Homo sapiens: one gene and its partner. The protein of the gene in region 1 purifies or fractionates together with the protein of each later gene. This does not show direct contact. Each region holds a gene or a part of one and is shown on either strand. Other genes may lie near its edges. The genes, in order: ELMOD1 and PBLD.

Region 1 (4,033 bases):
TATTAATAATTACAGGAACTGTAGCTGAAGGGAATTTCAGAGCACACTTGCGTAGGTCTATCTCTTGGAAGGATTTTGGATACTAGCTATCTAGGGGCTCATCACAAAACCTCCATTTTTGCCTGGTCTCTATAGCGTTCTTTAGCAGCCGCTTCAGTTCATTAGCTGCCTTTTGCCTATTCAGCTACCAAAGGTTGATTTACTTATATAGTAAAGGTCTTTTTGAAACCTTCTAACATATATTTTATTCCTCTGGGAAGGTGATAAGAAGGCAGTTCATTATAAATAAGATTGAACGAAAAATTTAAGACTACAACTGGCAAGAGGGATATATGAGTCCTGTAATCATGTTTAGAGACTGGATTAGATTTAATAGCAAATCTTTTCTATGAAAGTTATATAAGGTGCATTCAAGAGCATTTCTTTGCCATCCATTCTCTTGTTCTCATTTTTTTAAAAGACCCTTTTAGGTTCAGGTTGAGGATCCCTAATCTGAAAATCCAAAATCTGAAACTTTTGGGCATTGACATCATGCCACAAATGGAAGATTCCATAGCTGACTTCATGTGACAGATTGCATCTATTATTAAAAATGTTGTATAAAATTACCTTCAGGCTATGTGTATAAGTTGTATATGAAACACAAATGAATTTCATGTTTAGACTTGTGTCCCATCCCCAAGGTATCTCATTATGTATATGCAACTATTCCAAAATCTGAAACACTTCTGGTCCCAAGCATGTCAGATAAGGGTTACTCAACCTGTAGTATTTTTTTTAAATCTCCATGTGGATTCTAGTGCCTTTTTTACAGAGCGACATTGATAAGCTCTGATATAAAAAAATTAAGTACTTTTCTGAGAAAACAAAGAAATAGCTTAGAGATGGGGGAAACACTTTATAACTTACCAAACTGTTACTACTATTAACCTCACTTGTTTTAATTACATTTTTTAAGTGCTGCTTATGGTGGCACTAAAAATTACGACAGAGAAAATTTATTTATTTATTTTAATCTTTTTTTTGAGACAAGAGTCTTGCTCTGTCACCCAGGCTGGAGTGCAATGGCGCAGTCTAGGCTCACTGCAACCTCCACCTCCCGGGTTCAAGCGATTCTCCTGCCTCAGCCTCCCAAGTAGCTGGGACTACAGGCACGTGCCACCACATCTGGCTAATTTTTGTATTTTTAGTAAAGATGGGGTTTTACCGTGTTGGCCAGGCTGGTCTCAAACCCCTGACCTCGTGATCTGCCCGCCTCTGCCTCCCAAAGTGCTGAGATTACAGGCGTAAGACACCGCACCCGGCCAGAGAAAATTTAATTGACTTTCCTTATTTCTGCCTCTTATATTCCGTCCATTCTCCTCTTTCCCTCAAAATTAACGCTATTCTCCATACTACATGGACTTTCTAGGTGGCTAGTGCTATGGTGCCCTTTCCTAAATTTTAATATCTGGCCTAGTTGTTTGGTGCTATGGTAACAAGTAATGATGAAAGTCATTCACTGAATATGACTTTATTAAAGTTCAGTATTCCTAGGCTGTCTGACTGTCCTGTACGTTTGGAGCAGGTACACAGTTCTAAGTTCTGTTGCCCTCAACTTGAGATTTAACATCTGTGCATGTCATTTACCCCTAAAAAAAAATATGATGATGTACAGTGATTATAATGACCACCACCACACCACCTCAAACATGCTCAAAGTCCATGAGTGAACAAGACAAAAGACTAGATTGGAGAGTATCATATGCAATTGCCAATGTTCAGCCATTTTTGAGCCACAGAAAATACATGACTCTAAAGAATTTAGGAGGAAAAAATAAACGTGAAGTGCTACTTTTAGACCTTTAGATTCTACATTACTTTAGAGGCTGTAGAAAGGGAAAACAGCATTCCAGTCACAGAAAGTAATGATCCTCTGTGTGTTACAGTTGCCAGATTGTTTTCTGTTCTAGTGATATGCTTTTAGGGTACTGTTATTCAAATAGTGTACATTCGGAGAGGACTGAGAACGATCATAAAACATCTGAAAACCGGCTGGGCGCAGTGGCTCATGCCTGTAATCCCAGCACTTTGGGAGGCAGAGGGAGGCAGATCACCTGAGGTCAGGAGTTCGAGACCAGCCTGGCCACACATGGCAAAACTCCATCTCTATTAAAAAATATAAAAATTAACTAGATGTAGTGCTGGGCACCTGTAATCTCAGCTATTCGGGAGGCTAGGGCAGGAGAATCACTAGAAATCAGGAGGCGGAGGTTGCAGTGAGCCAAGATTGTACCACTGCACTCCAGCCTGGGTAACAGAGCAAGACTCTGTCTCAAAACATAAAAAATAAAAATAAAATAAAACATCTGAAATAAGATGTCCCATGAGAGGGAAATGAAGAAATAAGATTTCTCTTTTCCCTAGAGATTAGAAGACTCGCTATCTTAAATAGTCATGGCACTGGAAAGGTGGAAATAAATTTGCTCAGAGAACGGAATTGGAACCACTTTGTAATAAGCAAAGCAGATTTTGTTTCAGCATAAGAAAAAGTGTTCAGACAACTACAGCGGTCAGAATGTAATAGAACATCTTGTAAAGTTGTAACTACCCTCTTAGCACTGTCTCCCCTGAGGAGGACACTCCTAAGTGGAGGTGGTGTTGTTATTGTTATTTTGTTTCACTTCATTTTGTTTTGATTTTTTTCCTTGAAGCCCTTAAGGGCTTTTTCTGTTGTCCTCATCCTCATTCTCTTCCACACATCTTTCTAAGGTAATTCTGATATGACCACCTGGGGGGTGCTATATAATCCCTAAGAGCCCAGTATTACCTATAATTTCAAGTAACCTGCATAAAGAAATCCCTTGTGGGTTTTGGTTTTGTTTTGTTTTGGTAGAGATAGGATCTTGCTTTGTTGCCCAGGCTGGTTTTGTACTCCTGGCTTCAAGCAATCCTCCCATCTTGGCCTCAGAAATCCCTTATTTTTAAGTCATACCATTGCCATTTAGCTTTAGAAAAAGTCAGACTTCGAGGCAAATTTTAGCCAGGTTCTACAGTTGTCCATGTGGAGATTTAATAAGAATTGTGCTTCTATTAAATAGATCATCTTTGAGCAATTTCCTGAATATTATATTAATATGAAAAGTTCTATCATGCATACATCAAGTGAACAAATGCCAAAGTGAATGCCCTGTTCTTCCTTGTGTGTCTCTTCTGTTTTTGAACACCCTAGGCTGGGAATCTCTCTTCAGGCTTGCCTTCTGCAAATCGTTGGGTACAGGAACCTTATTGCAGATGTGGAAAAACTGCGTAGAGAGGCCTATGATTCTGATAATCCCCAACATGAAGAAATGCTTTTGAAGGTTAGTGCTTGAACACATTTCGGTTCTTCCTCTAAGTCAGCTGACATTTGCCAGGCACCTGCTATGTGCTAGGCGCTGCTCTGGACATCAGGGGTACAAAGATGGATCAGACACGGGCACCTAACTGGTTGGTAAGGTCAAGTTTTCTCGCTGGTTCAGGTGTTGGAAGTAAATTTTTCATCAGAAAATTCCTGTGAGAAGTTAAGTTCAAAGCCAATTTTCTTTTGTAATCTGAGAAAACGTCAGAGGTGATTTCTGTGGGCTCTCACATTTGGCTTAAGTTTAGTTTGTTTAACAAGTGTTGAAAGCCAACAGGAGAAATAGCATTTGTCAAAGAGTGACTTGGGATTCCCATTTACGACTTTTAATACACATCAGAGAAGATAAAGTTGGTTTCTGCTTCAGCAATGGCCCTCTTGGGAAATTACCCAAGATCTTAATGCTGATTATTTATGCATGTAACTTAGTATTAGAAGAGGTAAAGGTTTATATTTGGCACACTAGAACTTCTGGAGAAATAATGTGGAGTTATGAATACTCCTGGCTGTCAAAGCAAAACCTTAAAAATCTTACAGGATCTGATGGTATATTAAGAAACATCAGTAAAACTTTCCCTCAAAACACTTGAGTTTGGGGCTAAAGAAATTAAGACCCCACAATAATTAAGACTACCCTTTAGAACTACATACTTA
Region 2 (2,885 bases), on another chromosome or scaffold:
TAGTCCTAGCACTTTGGGAGGCCACAACAGGTGGATCACTTGAGGCCAGGAGTTTGAGACCAGCCTGGCCAACATGGTGAAATCCCATCTCTACTAAAAATACAAAAATTAGCCAGGCATGGTGGTGAGCACCTGTAATCCCAGCTACTTTGGAGGCTGTGTCATGAGAATCATTTGAACCTGGAAGGCGGAGGTTGCAGTGAGCCAAGATGGCACCAGCCTGGGCGACAGAGCAAGACTCTGTCTCAAAAAAAAAAAAGAATTTAGCATACATTTGAAAGATCAGATTCAGATCTGATCAAATTCAGGCCCTCTCAACTGTACATTTATATAAACTTATTCATATAGTTCAGTCTCAGGTTTGGAAAATCCAAAATTGGGGGAAAACCCTCTGGTGATTCTCGCCCTTGGTATCATGACCCGTGGGTGTGTTGTGATGAGTTGTGAGGTCTTCTGGGGGGCGGTGGGGCACTGGTTACTCAGTAAGTTAAGGCATTAAAGCTGGTGAATTATTGATTTATTGCACATCAGGAGAAACACAAGATTACTGCTATAATAAATTCACTCTTACATGCTTTAGCAAAAATCAGTAAAAATAGAAAACATGGTAACAATTAAAGTGAAAAAATTGGGGTCATTAAAGAATGTCTGACTGATTAGCTTGCAGTTTTTGAGACGGCTGAGAACTACCATCAATGAGATCACCTTAAACAAACACTCTTAATGACTTGAAAAAGTCCCCATCCCAAAGTCAACTATAGGTATTCAATATTGTATATTTAACTGAATTTAAAGTTATGTTAAAACCCATTTTATTGAAGTAAGAGAAGAATTCCTTTTACATTATCATTCTCAAGCCATATATCAAGAAAAAGATTGAAATTACATTCCTTTTTTTTTTTTTAATAGAGACAAGTTCTCGCTGTGTTGCCCAGGCTGGTCTCGAACTCCTAGGTTCAAGTGATCCTCCTGCCTTGTCCTGCCAAAGTGCTGGGATTACAGGCATGAGCCGCCACGCCCAGCTGAGATTACATTACTTTGAGTGTTTAATTTCACTATGACAGGAAGTAGCCTAATACATACTTTTTTGTGTTAATTTTCTGGATTCATCCTGATTTTTAGTCTTCGTACCTGAGTACAACAATAAAGGAAATCACTTCTTAGATACATTAAAATTACTTCTAAACTTGCCCCCCACACATGAACTGTTTTCAGTTTGCTATTTTTAATGGCCCATGCTTATTTATATAGACATAGCATAACACTGCTAACACTTTATGGCCTACTGTCCTCTTTCTTAGTATTATATTATAAAATATTTTTCTATATTTCCACATAGTTATTGACTCATTTTAATGGCTGCAAAATCAGGTACTCATTTAAGCTCAAATGGTTTAGTATCACTCCTCAGAAATGTATTCCTCCTTCTCTTGATTGGTAGTCATAATCAAATGAAGTGACATTATTCTTTGTAGCTGGTTACTTACATTTCAAATACACTCATGAGTGGAGCCAAAACTCCATTAGTTCATTAGTCTGGAAGCACTATTAAATCTCCATTAAAATGTCTTCACTTTTCAATTTTGTGTGTGTGTGTGTGTGTGTGGATGGAGTCTTACTCTGTTGCCCAGGCTGGAGTGCAGTGGTGTGATCTCTGCTCACTGCAACTTCTGCCTCCTGGGTTCAAGCGATTCTCCATGCCTCAGCCTCCCAAGTAGCTGGAATTACAGGCATGTGGCACCACACCCAGCTAATTTTTGTATTTGTAGTAGAGACGAGGTTTCACCATGTTGGCCAGGCTGGTGTCGAACCCCTGACCTCAGGTGATCCACCCACCTTGGCCTCTCAAAGTGCTACGATTACAGGCATGAGCCACTGCGCCTGGCCCATTTTTCGATTTTTAACATGAGGATTAAGTAGACTACTACGCACATTTGCTAAAGGCAGCCCCTTACATTTCTTTTTAAGCAGAAAATACTTGGTGGTTAGAGACAGCAGCGTCACAGCATAACCACCTCTAGGCTGTCAGTGTGCCCTCTAAAACAACAGCTGCACCTCCTCTAATGTCAACCCTTCCGTCTGGACGAAGGGAAATTCCCAGCTCTCCTCCTCGGTGGGAACACTGAAAAGCTAAAGAAAACAAACAGGTCAAATTAAGAGTATTTTCACCCTTTTAAATTAACAAAGCATAGTGAAAGACTTATTACAAATCTTAGAGTCCTCCCAGATCAGTTTCAAGAATAAATTCCTTCGTCTGTTTATGGTACTGCCCACTCCCATCCCCATTCTCCTGCAGACTGAGAAAGCCACAAACTCAATTTGATCTACAGAACACACAGCTCCACATACTCCCTTCCTGAGCCTTTTCCTGGGCCATCTCCTTCACTAATTCCTGTAATGGCCCAGACACACCCCACTCATCGCTTCTTCCCCTGCTCTCTCTAGGAGTAAGCAAAGATGTTTGAAACAATAGAGGCAGGCCTATAACTCTAGGAAGATGAAGAAGGGTGGTCTCAGCCCTCTTGAGAAGGCCCCCATCTTCTCAGCTCTGAATAGGACAGAGGGAGTTCATTCACTCATAACATATTCAAGCAACCACGTGTTCCAGGCAGACAAAAGAGGCATAGCCTCAGCCTTCCAGGAGCTCAGTACTTAGGAGAATAATTAGACTCGCCAAGGAAAATGAATAGCCACCTTGCTCTCTCCAAATCAGGGTCACAGACTCCTCCTTGGATGATCAGGGCAGTGCAGCCTCCATTGGCTGCCATCATTTTTCTCTGCCTCTAAGCAATACATTAATCACTAGGGGACTTGGTTCCAAAGTAATTTGTTTGATTCAATCCTGTGACTAGCAATAGCAGTAAGGAACCTTGGTCATCATCCAG

Evidence for each region.
Region 2: the proteins of ELMOD1 (region 1) and PBLD purify together in Homo sapiens (affinity purification with mass spectrometry; one large-scale study listed by BioGRID and IntAct). This does not show direct contact.

The regions. Positions count from the first base shown.
Region 1 is NC_000011.10:107,632,425-107,636,457, forward strand, and holds part of ELMOD1 (ELMO domain-containing protein 1), read left to right. Parts: intron 1-3,211; coding exon 3,212-3,341; intron 3,342-4,033. UniProt on the Homo sapiens protein: Acts as a GTPase-activating protein (GAP) toward guanine nucleotide exchange factors like ARL2, ARL3, ARF1 and ARF6, but not for GTPases outside the Arf family.
Region 2 is NC_000010.11:68,282,160-68,285,044, forward strand, and holds the end of PBLD (phenazine biosynthesis-like domain-containing protein), read right to left. Parts: intron 2,131-2,885; coding exon 2,018-2,130; 3' UTR 501-2,017; downstream 1-500.